Homo sapiens: one gene and its partner. The protein of the gene in region 1 interacts with the protein of each later gene in a pairwise test. Each region holds a gene or a part of one and is shown on either strand. Other genes may lie near its edges.

What was found. The genes of interacting proteins can lie anywhere in the genome.
Region 2: the proteins of EEF1AKMT3 (region 1) and ALS2CL interact in binary tests that used the Homo sapiens proteins (3 or more experiments, as listed by UniProt).

What each region holds. Positions count from the first base shown.
Region 1 is NC_000012.12:57,775,598-57,782,621, reverse strand, and holds the end of EEF1AKMT3 (EEF1A lysine methyltransferase 3), read right to left. Parts: intron 2,368-7,024; coding exon 1,976-2,367; 3' UTR 81-1,975; downstream 1-80. UniProt on the Homo sapiens protein: Protein-lysine methyltransferase that selectively mono-, di- and trimethylates 'Lys-165' of the translation elongation factors EEF1A1 and EEF1A2 in an aminoacyl-tRNA and GTP-dependent manner.
Region 2 is NC_000003.12:46,690,658-46,698,162, forward strand, and holds the start of ALS2CL (ALS2 C-terminal-like protein), read right to left. Parts: upstream 3,023-7,505; 5' UTR 2,986-3,022; exon of another isoform or gene 2,832-2,985; intron 1-2,831. UniProt on the Homo sapiens protein: Acts as a guanine nucleotide exchange factor (GEF) for Rab5 GTPase. Regulates the ALS2-mediated endosome dynamics.

The sequences.
Region 1 (7,024 bases):
GAATTACCCCCCACCTCCCACCCCAGGTAAAATAACAGAAACCAAGAAATAAAGTCGTCACAAAACAACAACACAAGAAATGTGGGTAACATTTTATGTTTATTTTCAATGCGCATTTATATTCATTATCCATTTATGACTCACAACAAACTTGTGTGGTTGGTGAATGGGTTCGAGAATTTGTCCAAGGTCACCTAGGAAGGCAGGGGTGGAATCCATTAAACAAAGCGAGTAAATATTTATTGAATGAGCACAATATCTGTTGAACACCTGTTGTGTGCCAGGAACTGTGTTAGGCTTCAGGGGTTTAGACAGGAGTAAACCACAGCCCTACCCTCCAAGGTAATTTAATGGTGAGAAAATGAGAATCACAAATGTCCATGCAAGACAAATTAAGGTCCCATAAGATGAACCTTATGGGTCTCAGGGAGAAAGAAATCACATTCAAGCAAGAGGCTCAGGAAAGAGGCAAAGAATAATGAAGATTTTGACAGGTGGCAATAGCCTTTCAGGCAGAGGATTATCATAAAGAGTGTGAAAGAAGTCAGAAAACTTTAGTGTGGTTTTAGAGAACAAAGAGTACATCTTTTGTAATTTGGCCAGAGGTCCAATACACGTAGCAAAGGAGTAGGAAATGCAATAGGAAGGTAATTTTGGATCACATGGACACAGACTAAGTACCAAGCAGAGGAGCTTGTTCTTGCTTCTACAGGAAGTGAAAGCTAATCAGAGCTAATTTTGGAAGATCACAAGAGTTTGCGGAATGGACTGAAGGAGAAAGCATGGAAGCAGGGAGTCCAGAGAAGGTGACTATGTGCCTAAGCAGTAAGTAAAGAGAGCCCCAACCAGAAGTACCAATGTGGGAAGAGAAAAGAGGTTAAGGCAAAACACATTAGGAACTGTGTTAGGCTTCAGGGGATTAGAGATTAGGAAGGAAGGACTGATGAAGCTAAAGAAAAATCAAAGATGAAAAGAACTTAGTACTAGGTACAGTATTCTTCTGCACACAATGATGTTCCGTGATCAAGGCTCTAACTCTGGAAAGCATGAAGAAATACAGTCCAAAGGACAGCTCTGCAGCCTTAGCTTCAGAGCTAGGAGGACTTGACCCAGTTAGAGCCATGGTTCCACTAGACTCTATCTCTAAAAAGCAGGAAATGGGTGGTTTGAGGCTTCTTCCTTCTCAGCTCCTGAGTAAAAGTTGGGTTCTTGCACAATAGATTTTTAAGGCTTAATTCTTTCTTAAAAAAAAAAAAAAATCCTAGGCTAGCACAGTGGGCCATGCCTGCAATCCCAGCACTTTGGGAGGCAAGGCGGGTGGATCACTTGAGCCCAGGAGTTTGAGACCACCCTGGGCAACATGGCGAAACCCTGTCTCTACTGAAAATACAAAAATTAGCCGGGTGTGGTGGCGCATGCCTCTAGTCCCAGCTACTTGGGGAGCTGAGGCAGGAAGATCATCTGGGCCTTCAGAGGTTGAGGCTGCAGTGAGCTGTGATCACACCACTGCACTCCAGCCTGGATGACAGAGTGAGACCCTGTCTCAAAAAAAAAGAAAAAAAGAAAAAAAAATCCCACAGAATTTTTTTAAAGTCCATTCTGTGTAAACAGCAACAGGAATGGAAGTGATCAGTGACAGTCTGTCTACAATCACTGCTCTCACATCCCATATATCTCCCTTACCCCCTAAAAATCCTGGATACCTTACCATCCTCCTTCTCTGAGAACAGGAGCCAGGAACCTCCTTGGTGTTCTAACACTAGTGCTGCCAGAACTCTGGGATTCCTTGTAAGCAGGCACCTCACTGCACCTGCCCAAGAGTATCTGGGGTAACAAAGAGGGAAGGAGGAAAGTGAGAGAGGCCAGGGAAATCCATCCTTTTTGGTCCTCATGTTTGTGGCTCTGGAAATATGGTTTTTGAGATACACAGTTCCTTCATTAGAGCAAGAGATTGAGAAGAACAGCAAGGGTGATGTCAAGCAGGTCTTGGTTCCCTGTGCCTGGCCCTATAGATGTTGACATTTTCATCCTCATCCCGCTGAGCCAGCTCCAGTTGGAAATGCTGGGGCAGGAGGTGCTGAAAGAAGCTCTCTGTCCCATGCTCCTTTCTCATCTTGGAGGCCAGATAGATGGTGCCATGGGGCCTGCACAGGTGTTGGAGGGTCCCCAGCAGCAGAGGGAAGGTGGGTTCCAGGTACACGATATCAGCCCCCAGCACCAGGTCATAGTTTGCAGGGAAGACATGATGGTCAATCCCCCAGGACAAGGCACGCACCTGGGCCTGGCCTCCAGCTGGCACATTGGCCTGGACGTTGCCCTGGATCTGTTCTAGGGCCAGGGGCAGGTCAGTGATGGTAACATCCCCCCCTGAGAGAGAGGAAGGAGGAAAAATGCAAGTCAGAGGAACCAACCAAGGGTTCTTGGCTCCTGCCTGGAAGGTCCAGAGACCTCAGAGCATAGAGGACAATGTCTTGACAGCCCAGAGCCCACACTGGCTTTTAGTTGCCTCAACCTCCATTTCACCCACTGCTATTCTCATTACTCTACATTCTACAACATCAACATTCTCTCTGAGCTAATCTTCAACCTCTCTGGCCAACACACAACAATCAGATGTCAGCAGAAGCCTGGGCAGGACTAAGCTGGAGATGGGTTCTGTACCCACCCCCACTGACACAAGCTCGCCTTAAGGGTCTGGAAAGCTTCCCAGAAAATGTGACCTCAGCTGAGCCCTAAAGGACAAGTAGGAGTTAGTCAGGTGGAGCTTTCCAAGAAGAGAACAGTGAGTACAAAGGCCTGGGAGTGAAAGAGCATGGCATATTCAGGAAAGGCTGCATCTTAGAGGATGTGGAAGGGGGAGAAAAGTGTCAAGACATGAGACAAAGGGAAAGTGATTATGACATGCTAAGAAGATTCAGGTTCGATACTGAGGGCAGTAAGCTTTAAGGGCAGAAACGGGTGAAGATGGTCAGATTAGCATCTCAGAAACCTTCATTCATGCAGTAGATATAATTTGGAGAACCTTCTAAGTGCTGGGTATATAAGGTGAGCAAGACAAAAACACAGCTTTCTTTGTTTCATTCTAGAGGTAGAGACACACTAGGTACTGCATCATAATCATGATGACTATGATAGAAAGAGAAGCAAGAAGTACTAGGAATCCATTCATTCATTCATATTTATTATGTGCCTATATGCCAAGTGCTGAGAACATAATGATGAACTAAGAAGATAAGAATCCCCCCTCACAGAGCTTATGGTCCAGTGGCAAGAAACAGATGATAACAACAAACAAAATAAATAAAATAAAATACACTGTACATCAGATGGTAATATATGCCATGGTGAAGCCCCAAGCAGGGAAGGGGGATAAGAATTGCTTGAGGGATGGGGAGAAATGCAAGTTAGAGGGACCAACCAAGGGTTCTCGGCTCCTACCTGGAAGGTCCAGAGACCCCAGGGCATAGAGGACAAAGTCTTGGCAGCCTGAATGTAATTTTAAATTGAGTGGCTGGAGAATGAAATTTTAAATTGAGTGGTCAGACCAGCCTGACCAAAATGGTGAAACCCCATATCTACTAAAAATACAAAAAAATTAGCTGGGTGTGGTGGCGGGCGCCTGTAATGCCAGCTACTAGGGAGGCTGAGGCAGGAGAATCGCTTGAACCTGGGAGGCGAAGGTTGCAATGAGCCGAGATTGTGCCATTGCACTCCGACCTGGGCAACAAGTGCAAGACTCTGTCTCAAAAAAAAAAGAATGGCACACGCTGGCATGCTTTAGGAGGAGCATGCTGGCTGCTATGATGAGAAGAGTACAGGAGGGCAAGGTCAGAAGCTAGGAGACCAGTTAGGAGGTGATGGCAATGACTCAGGTGAGAGATGATGATGGTTTAAACCAGGGCAGTAGCAATGGCTAAGAAATGGTCAGATCCTGAATATATTTTGAAGGTAGAGTCAACAGGATTTGCCAATAGATTGGATATAAAATATGAGAGAGAGAGAAAAGCTTGGGATGGGCCAGGCACAGTGGCTCACGCCTGTAATCCCTTTGGATTACACTTTGGGAGGCCAATGCGGGATGACTGCTTGAGTCCAGGAGTTTGAGACCAGTCTGGGCAACATAGCAAAACCTCGTCTCTATAAAAAATACAAAAATTAGCTGGGTGTGGTGGCACATCCTGTAGTCCCAGCTACTCGGGAGGCTGAGGTCAGAGGATTGCTTGAGCCTCGGGAGGTTGAAAGTTCAGGGCTTTAGTGAGCCATGATTGTGCTACTTTCACTCCAGCCTGGGCAACAGAGTGAGAACCTGTCTCAAAAAAAAAAAAAAAGCTCAGGATGGTTTCTGGGTGTTTGGCCTGACCAACTAGAAGACCAAATTGCCACTCATTTAGATGAGAAAGGTTGCAGGAGGCGCAATTTGGACAGGAAGATCATGAGTTCATTTTCTGAGCACGTTAAGTTTGACATGGACTTCTATATCACATCAGACAACCACATGAAGATACTGAGTAGGCACTAGGTTATGCAAGCAAGTCTGGAGATAGAAATGGGATAGTCTTAGAGTCATGATCACCAACGGGGCATTTTTTTTTTTTTTTTTTTGAGATGGAGTCTCGCACTTGTTGCCCAGGCTGGAGGGCAATGGCATGATCTCGGCTCATTGCAACCTCCGCCTCCCAGGTTTAAGCAATTCTCCTGCCTCAGCCTCGCAAGTAGCTGGGATTACAGGCGCCTGCCACCACGCCCGGCTAATTTTGTATTTTTAGTAGAGATGGGGTTTCACCATGTTGGTCAGGCTAGTCTCAAACTCCTGACCTCAGGTGATCCACCCACCTTAGCCTCCCAAAGTGCTCGGATTACAGGCGTAAGCCACCGCGTCCGGCTTCAACAGGACATTTAAAGGCATGAGGTGATGGGCTGCTCAGGAGTGAGGTAGACAAGAAAAGGAGGGGATCAAAGGACTGCCCCTGAGCCCTGGGGCACTCACATTTTCAGTTGTGAAGATGAAAAAGAACCAACAAGAGAGCATGGAAAAGGAGTTCCTGCCGGTAAGCAGAAACCAGAAGTGTGGTCCCCTGGAAACCAAAGGAATTGTTCCAAGGAGGAGGGAGTGTCAGCATCAAATGCAAAGTTATCAAAGGTAGGCTGATAACTGACTCCTGCGTTTAACAACCTGGAGTTGGAAATGAAGCTCACGACCTTAACTAGAACAATTGGATTGAAGGAAAGAATAGGAGGAGAGGAACTAGACACTGAATATTAACTCTTTTGAGTTTTGTTTTAAAGTGGAGCATAGAAATGGAGTGATAGCTGGAGGGAGATGTAGGATCAAGAGTTTTTTTCTGAAATAAGAGAAATCATAGCATATTTATATGCATTTTATATTCCATATATTACTATATATGGAATGATCCAAAGAAAAGGAAAAACTGAGAATGCAGGAGAGATGGGGGTGGGTGTTGCTGGAACAATGTCTTTGAGTAGGCAGAAAGATTTGGGGTCTTGTGACAAGTGGGGGGCTTGACCTTAGCTAGCACAATGTGTTCATCCATGGTAACAGGAGAGAAGGCACTGCACACAGATGCAGATGCAGTCACATAAGTAGATGTTGTGATAAAAATATATGGACATTTTCTGAGAAAACAGAAGCAATCATTAGAGATAAGAAACAGCCCAGGTGCGGTGGCTCACATTTGTAATCCCAGCACCTTGGGAGGCCAAGGCAGGTGGATCACCTGAGGTCAGGAGTTTGTGACCAGCCTGGCCAACATGGTGAAACCCCATCTCTACTAAAAATACAAAAATTAGCCAGGCATGGTGGTGCGTGCCTGTAATCCCAGCTACTTGGAAGGCTGAGACAGGAGAATCACTTGAACCTGGGAAGCAGAGGTTGCAGTGAACCAAGGTCGCACTACTGCAGTCCAGCCTGGGCAACAGAGTGAGACTCCATCTCAAAAAATAAAATAAAATAAAATAAAATAAAGAGATAGGAAACAAAGTCATCAGGTGAGGGTGAAGATGGCAGAAGAGGCATGTGGAGGTTTGAGGAATAAGAAGGTAAGAAACAGTTGTTCAGGAGAGTGGCAGAAAAAGTGGACGAGAGAATGTACCAGGCTAGCTGGGAAGCACTTAGGACCCACCTAAGGCCAATGGTAACAAAGTTAAAATTAGCCCAGTTAGCACAGTTGTGTATGTACTGGGAGGGTCTAAGTTAGCCTAGGAGTGGGAGTGCCAAGGAGGCCTTCCCTTCGAAGTGATGTTTGAGCTGAGGAAGGAGGGATGCATATGCATTAAGCAGATGGTAAAAAGTTTCAGACAGAAAGTAAGCCTGAGTGAAGTCCCCAAGGAAGGGAACATCAGAGTAGGTTTGAGGAACTGATGGACAGGCAATAGGCAGCCCAAGAAAAACAAGAGAGAAAGAGGCACAGAAAGAGGGAGGCAGGACCTTGGGGGCCATGCCATAGGTGTTGGTTCTATCCTGAAAGCAACAAGAGGCCACTGAAAGATTTGGGGTGGGAATACATGATTACAGTTTTATTTTGAAAAGATCACTCTGACCACTAGGTGGAAGGGCAGAGGTCTAGGTGAGGACAAGGAGTCAAAGCAGGAAGACAAGTGTGGCTGTTGTAGTAGTCCAGGCAAGTGATCGTGGTGGTTTGGACTGGGGAGCTGTCAATGGAGATGGAAAAACATGAGAAGATTTAAGAAATTTTTAGGAGATAAACTGAATAATGGACATGTAGGTGAGAAAGAGGGTCGTGTCAAAGGTGATGTCTAGGTTTCCCACTGGGTGCACAGTGATTTGATTCACTGAGATAGGGAAGTCTGAGGGAGAAATGTGTTTGGTGGAGGAAGGTCACAAGATCTAGTTGGGTATGTCACACTTCCCCAGAAGAAGCTTGAAGGCCCTTGCGAAAATCCAGGCAAGAGATGCCAGTGGCCTGAACTAGAGATGCTGAAAAGATAATACTTCCCCAGACAACTGGAAGTTGTGGCCAGATCACTTGAGGCCAGGAGTTCACGA
Region 2 (7,505 bases), on another chromosome or scaffold:
TTAGCCCAAGACCCGCAGACTGTCTCTCTCCTTGTCTCTGACACGCTGAGGCTTTGGAGTTAGCCAACCTGTGTGGGGCAGGGGACAAAATCAGGGCAGCCAACGATGGGCAGGTGACACAGGCAGACCCAAAAGGGTGAGTGGGAAGGGGTCTCAGCCCTCCCCTCTCCACCCTGCCCCGAGAGTGCCATGCGGGCATCCCAGGCCCCTGGCAGAGCCTACAACTCCCAGGGAATTGGCTCTGGAATGGAGTGGGGCGGGTCCCTCAGAGCTCTGGCCAAAGGCCCAGGCCAGGCATTCCTGCCCCACCTTTCCTGCTACTGCTGCTTCGAGAGGGTGAGGCTGCAGAGAGAGAGGCAGGAAGGGGAAGCCACCAGACACCCAGCTGCAGCTTCTGTGCTGCAGCTTCTTCTCCCTCTGTGGGCCCCTGAGGCAGACCCAGGCCCCCAGGACACAGGGGGCTCCAGGTCAGCTCAGGCAGACAAGGAAAGCCCAGCCAAGGGAATAGGGGTGCAGCCAGGCCCACCTAACTCTCACCCGTATCTCCCGAAACTGCTGGAATGGAAAGGCGCTTTGGGGGTGACCTTTTCACTCTCAGCTGGCAGTCAGCTGGGGTCTAAGCTAAGAGGTGAGGATATCCAAGCCTGGTTGGGAAGGTAGAAGAAAGGGTGAGGCTAGGATAGGAGATGCAGACTAGGAACCAGATCAGTGCACGTTGAAAAGATACTGCAGTAAATAACTCGCTGCTAGGAAGACTTGAACACCAACATCCCTACACTCTCCGGGGGGCCAGCACCATGACCCCAGCCGACACCATACCCTGGCAAGGAGCTCTCTGACCCTAGAGATAGCCTCTCCTCCTCAGGCTTCCTGTCCCTCGTCCCCACTGCCCAGTCTCAGCTGCTCCCCCAGGAGCAGCCCTCACCTGGCTGCTCAGCCCTGGACATGCTTCAACTTATCCACAGCCTTACTCCTCTCTGTACCTCAGCCACCCCTCTACGAAATGGGGGTTCAACCAGATCACAGCATTTTTTTCTTTTTATTTGTTTGTATTTCTTTCTATTCTTTTTTTTTTTTTTTTTTAGAGATGGGATCTCACTATGTTGACGAGGCTGGTCTCAAACTCCTAGCCTCAAGTGATCAACCCATCTTGGCCTCCCAAAGTGCTGGGATTACAGGCGTGAGCCACTGCGCCCAGCCAAAGAGGATCACAGCTTTTCAAACTACTTAAGTCTCCCCTCAAAAGGACAAACAGGTGGAAGGGGGCTTCTCTGGGTGTGGGGATCTGGTCCTTAGACTCCCCACCCCACAAAGCAGCCTATGACTCCGGGGGTGAGTCCTCCAGACTCAAGTTGGCAACTGTTAATCTGGGAGTCTTCCACATCTGTGGCCCCAAAGGGATCTATAACCCTGGGAAACTGAGTCACACCACCCAGAGGAACGGGCAGAAGTTAAGCATGGCTGGTGAGGCAGTGGGTTGGGGGAAGGCCGCAGTGGAAGCTGGGATTCTGGTTAGGTGACCCTGAGGGACCCAGCTCCCAGGCTAGGGAGTCTGGGGCTTCATCCTGGAAGTGATGAGGAGAGTGTAAGTGCAGGGGTGAGGCAGCGTGAATGTGCATGAGTGTGCACGTTTGCAGGGCAGGAGGAGGAGGTGCTGAACCTTAATATGAGGAGGATCCTGCAGGAGTACCCCCCTCCCCAACCCCTGTCCCATCCCTAACCTTCCCCCTTCCAGTCAAGGGCATAGCTTCCTCACCCTCTCCCTCCCTCCAGTTCAAAGGTTCCTTAGTGACAGGCTGTGCCTAATGTACAGATGGGGAAACTGAGGCCCAGGAACAATGGGAGGGTCCAGAGACCCTTGTGTAGAACTTGTGCAGGGCTCAGACCCAGACTTCTGGCTCCAGCCCACCAGGTTCACCTAGCTAGATGGCTCAGAGAGGGTGGGCAACTCACCTGAGGCACAGAGCAAGATCCTGACGGGCCCTGCCTCACAGCTGTCCTCAGGCAGCCCTGATGCTCACCACGGGGTGCGGTGGGGTGGGGCAGGGTGAGGACAGAACTGGCCAGTCACGGCGTGCCCAGGTGAGTCAGCGGCTGCCCCTGTGGCGCTCTAACCAGTAGCCAGACCTGGTCTCTCCTCTGCATTCCTGGCCTCTGTCCACGCTAGGTCCCTCCCGGGCAGGGTCACTGGGGCCTTCCCTGTCCTCTCCCAGGCCTGGCTCCTTAGGCCCCTGACACACCTTGTCGTGACACTCACTCACTCTGGTATTTCCTGGTCTGAACAGGCAGGGAAGTTCTGCCTGCTGTGGAGGCTTTTTCATGGGCTGCCGTGGCAGCCCCTTCGTTGTCTGGTGCCCAGTGGGGGAGAGTAGAGACACGCACTGCCCCAGGGAGGGGGCGCTGAACTGTCACACCTGATCCCTCAGTCTCATGCTCGCCTCTCCCCGCTGCACCCTTCCTCGGCCCCACCATGGCTACAAGCCTCTTGTCCTAGACAAGCACCCCTCCCTGCTGTCGCATATGTCCCAGCTTCCCTTCCTCTCCCTGCCCAGGCACACACTCAGTCGCTGGAGTTTCCCAGACCCGAGCTCCTGTTCCGGCCGCCAGGCATTTGCCATGCCGCTCCCATGCGAAAAGGCCACCTCCTGGAATCCCGGGTCGGGCCCTTCCGCCCTAACCAGCCGGCGTCACCTCCTCCTGGCAGTCTCTCCTGCTGGCTGGGGCCCCGTGGCCCTGCCACCACGGCTCAGGTCAGGCCCGGGGCGCTGCCCCGAACCCAAGCAGGCTAGCAGCCAGGCAGGGAGGACGACGCTGTGAGCGGGGTATCTTACGAGGGACTCGGACGGCCGGGGGATGACTGCCGCCGGGACCAAGGAGCTGGGCGGGGACCGCAGCAGCCGAGGAGGCGGGAGCCCCCACCTGGACGAGCTAAGCGTGGAGCGCAGACACCCGTCCGCAGACGCGCGCCCTTCGTCGCGCCCTTACCTGAGCGCTGTGGTTGCCCCGCGCCGGGACTGCCTGTGCGGCTCCTCGCTCGCACCCCCACCCTGCCCCCTGCCAGTCCCGCCCCCTGCCAGCCCCGCCCCCTTCGCCCAGCCCCGCCCCGCCCCGCCTCCGGGTGTTGCTCTGGAGTTGCGGGGGCCACGGGCGGGCCACCGAGGAGCTGGCGCGCGGTATTGATCCGTCCCGCCGCCCCAAGCCTCTCCTGAGGCCTCCCTCTGGCGTCCCCCGGGATCCGGAGGCCCCTGGGACCCGGCGCGGGGAGGAAAAGTGGGAGTCTTGACCCCTCCGCCCCCTACGCACCCACGCGCACACTCAGGCTCGCCTCTCGCGCCCCGCTTCCCCTGCAAGGCTCCGAGGCCGCCGTGCCACCACCTCGCCCCGCCAGTCAGTCGCTCTGCGAGCCTGTGGTGCAGCCCCGTGACCTCCCGGGTCTGCCCTGAGTCACAGAAGCCAGCACACGCGGAGCGCTGTGTGGGTTCGTGGAACTTGGAGCCTGTAGAGGGGTATACTGAGGCGCCCTGCGGCCCCCTGGGCTGGGTGTCCACGGCCGGCCGCCCCTCCTGTGCGACCTTGGGGAAGTCCCCTTTCCTCCCCACTCCTGAGTCTCAACAGGCCTAGTAGAGCATGAAGCCGGCCGCGTGTGCTTTGTGCGAAGGCCTGAGACCTTGGAAAGGGTGGCTGAAGACTTATCTGGGACAGACCCCCCGGGAGCGGGAGGGAACTTAGTTCAAACCTGTAACAAAGAAGCCCCCCGTCAGCAGCCTGATTCCCCCTCTGGCCACCAGGTTAGTCACCCATTGCTCTCAGTGGCACTCAGGTTCCAGTGAGGGGGAGGCTCAGGGTCCAAGGCGGCCGTGGAAGAGCAGAAAGGGTGGCCCACCAGCCCCCTACTCAGCCCCCTACTGAGGAGGTGGGAGGCATCCCCCAACCTGCCAGGCTGAAGAGACCCCCAGTGGAGGTAAGTAGGGGCCTGGGGCCTGCCAAGCTCATCCCCTGGCTCCCTTGGGTTGTTGCGAGGTGGGAGTTTACTGTCTGCCAAGCTGCACATCACCCCTTGGAGGGTTTCCAGCCTGGGACCCTTGTCTGAGTGACTGCAGGTCCCAGTGACCTCACCCTTTTGCCCCACATTGCTCTCCTCCTGGGTCCCAATCCTGCAGAGCCGCCCCTTCCTGCTTCTCCATCCCTCCCCACATTGCCAAAGCCCGCCCTAGCTCTGGCCTCCCCTTTTCCAGCCTTGTTTTCTTGCCCCCTTCTGCACCCCCTGCTGCCTGAGGGGCTCCACTCCCAAAGGCCTTGCTCCTCTGGTCCCTGCCTGCTAGAGGTGTTGCTGTGTTGGTGGGTGGGGGCTACCTCAAGGAGGCTTCTGGTGAGGTGTCCCTCTGGCCCTCTGGGAAAGCCTCCCCTCCCCATGCCCTCCACCCCCAGGCTCCGGACCTTGGCCCCCACTCCCCTTCACAGCCCTGTTGGCCTGCGGGACTGTCTGCTGGGGCACTTGGCTCCCTGAGTCTACAGCACAGCCTGGCAGAGCCACCGCCCCAGCAGGTGGAATGAACTGAGGCTTCAGGTTCTAAACAGGCCTCCAAGGTCTTCCCTGTGGGGATCCTTTGTGCCTGTGGGGCAGTGGGAGGTAGCGGTACATTCTGGAAGAGCTGGTATGGGGCCTTGTGCTGCTTTCCTCTTGCTGTGTGATCACAGGCAGTGTGTGGCCTCTCTGTAACGTAGTGCCCCTGCTGGTGAAATATCTTACCTGCGCCTCCTTCTCGGGGTTATGTGGGACTCTGAGAGGAGGGGTATGGTGGGTTCAAGGGGCTCCTTCAGGGATGAGCACGGTTTAGAGGATCTATGGGTCCCCTAGAGCATGGGTGTGGGCCACCAGGCATCCCTGGGGCTTAGGAGGGAGGCAAGGGCTGGAGAGTGGCCATGGCCTCAGGAGGAGCATATGGCCTCACCACTTGTGACGAACAGGGACAGGTGGGGCAAGGCCCCGAGCAGGACAGATCTGATCTTATGCTAGGTGTCTCTGGGCCTCACTTTCATCATCTGCACGTGCAGCTGAGGGAAGGCAGTGCTGCCTGGGCTCGAGCAGGAAGGGAAGGGCTCCCACGGCTTCCTCCCTAGAGCACAGACTTCCTGTTCAGCCACATCTAGGGGAATAGAAAGGCTGACTGAGCTCTGGGCAGCAGACCAGTCCTTCCCCCATTCCCTGGGTGACCTCATGGGCATTGCAAGCCCAGTTTTCCTATCTGCTAAATGGGGCAAGACCTGCCCAGCCTCTCTTACAGCTCATTCTTGGCTTGGGGCCAGGTAAGGCCTCTGGTAGTGCCCAAAGGACAGCCTCTGCTGAGTCCACCTGCCTTCAGTCCCCTGCAGCACAGCCAAGGGCCCCTAGCCAATCCCACCACAGATGTGTATACCCACCCACACCACTCCCACACCCGCTGCACACAGATACAATTCCACAGTCAGGGAATGGGTGGGTCCCTGTGCCACATGGACCCATCTACCATTGAACCCACTGGTAAGGACTCCAAGTTGCACAACTCTAGTGGCAGCCCTGGGTATGCGTGTGCAGATCATGTGCCCATCCACAGGGACACAGACCTGCACACTACTCCAGGGAACACACACGTATGTGAATGGCACCTGTGATTCTGGAGCCATTGAGACTCATACCCAGCCACACACAAAGCTGCATGCAGAATGCACATGCACTCCCATGTGCACCAGTGCCTTAGTACACAAAGCACATGCTCAAGCACACGCAGGTCTGACACAGGCCTGGCCCAGCCCCACAGCTATTCTGAGCTGAGCCTGGGGCTGATGAGGTCAGGGACAGCCAACTCCCAGCAGGCCCCAGCTGCTGTGGCACAGGCCTAGGCTGCCCAGCTCCCACCCCCACCCTAGGCTGAGTCCCTGGATCCTAGCCTAGCTTTGTGACTGGGGGTCCTCATTTCCTACCCCCAGCTCCCCCAGAGCTAAACTTTAAGCCCTGGGATTTCAGGCTCCAGGAGAGAACATTCCACAGGGTCCTCTGGCCACTACCCCCTGCCTTGCTCACAGCTTCCAGTTCAGAGGCCCTGGAGGCTGGACTGGGTCCCTACAGGAAACTCACAGGAGCTAAAATTAGTACAGGAGGGAGAAGCAGGGATCTGCAGACCAGCATTCACAGCACCATGTATGGAGGGGACACTGTCTTCCAGGGAGCAAGGGTGGGGGACTTGGAGTCCAGAGGTCCCCAACCCCAGATATGATGGGCCCAACTGATTTTGGGGTGCAGGGGGATGTGGAGGCCTCCTAAGAAGCAGAAACAGTACTGGACACTGAGCAGTGTCCTGGGTTGGAGGCAAAGGCTGAGGTGGAGGCCATAGTTCCTGTGTGACCTTAGGCAGGGCATAACCCCTCTATGAGCTTAAATTCCTCACTGAAAAGCCCTCAGAGATGTAAAGTCCCTCAAAGATGGGGGAAAAAAAAACCCATGTGGTGTTAGGTATTGATTTTCATCCTCGGCTACTGGCTCATAGCTCCCATTGCCCTTGTTACGGTCTTTGGCTATAATGTGTTGGGCCTCAGGGCAGGCCCCAGGAAACGGAATCTCTCTGACCTTCTCCTGCTCTGCTTTCACCTGCCCCAAGTCAGGACCCTAATTTTCCCACACCTTTCTGATTGCGAGTCTTAAGACCCTCCCCAGAGAGGGTCCTGCCCTATACTCTGGGAGGAAGGAATGCAGATGTCGTGAAGCCTCCATAAACCCCAAGAGGACAGGGTTCAGAGGGCTTCTGAATAGCTGAACGTGTGGAGGCTGGGTGGCATGCCCAGGAGGGCATGGAAGCTCCATACCCCTTCCTCCATATCTCGCCCTATGCATCTCTTCAGCTGTATCCTTCGTAATACCCTTTACAGTAAGCCAGTAAAAGTCAGTCAGTGCTTCCCTGAGTTCTGTGACCCACTCCAGCAAATTAAGCCCAAAGAGGAGGTTGTAGGAACCCCAGCGTGAAGCCAGTTGGTCAGAAGTTCCAGAGGCCAGACTGGCAACTGGTGTCTTGGGGCTGGGTGGGCAGTCTTGGGAACTGAGGCCTCAATCTGTGGGATCTGACACTATCTCCGGGTAGATCATGTCAGAATCGAATTGGAAGGCACTCAGTTGGTGTCTGCTGCTTGGCATTTAGGGAAAAAACCCACACATTTGATCACAGAAGACTTCTGTGTGGATGATTGTTGTTGTGTTGGTGTACGAGCAGAGGAAAAGATATAGTTTGAGAGAGTTTTCAAAACTACTTTAACTTTCAGGATGTTCGCCTTAACGTGGTGTTTAATACTGGAGAATTGGAAGCAATGGAAATGTCCAACAATAGGACAGAGATCCAACAAGGTTTTTTGTTTCTTTTGTTTTGTTTTGTTTTGTTTCTTTTTTTTGAGATGGAGTCTTGCTTTCGCCCAGGCTGGAGTGCAGTGGCGCCATCTCAGCTCACTGCAACCACCTCCTGGGTTCAAGCAATTCTCCT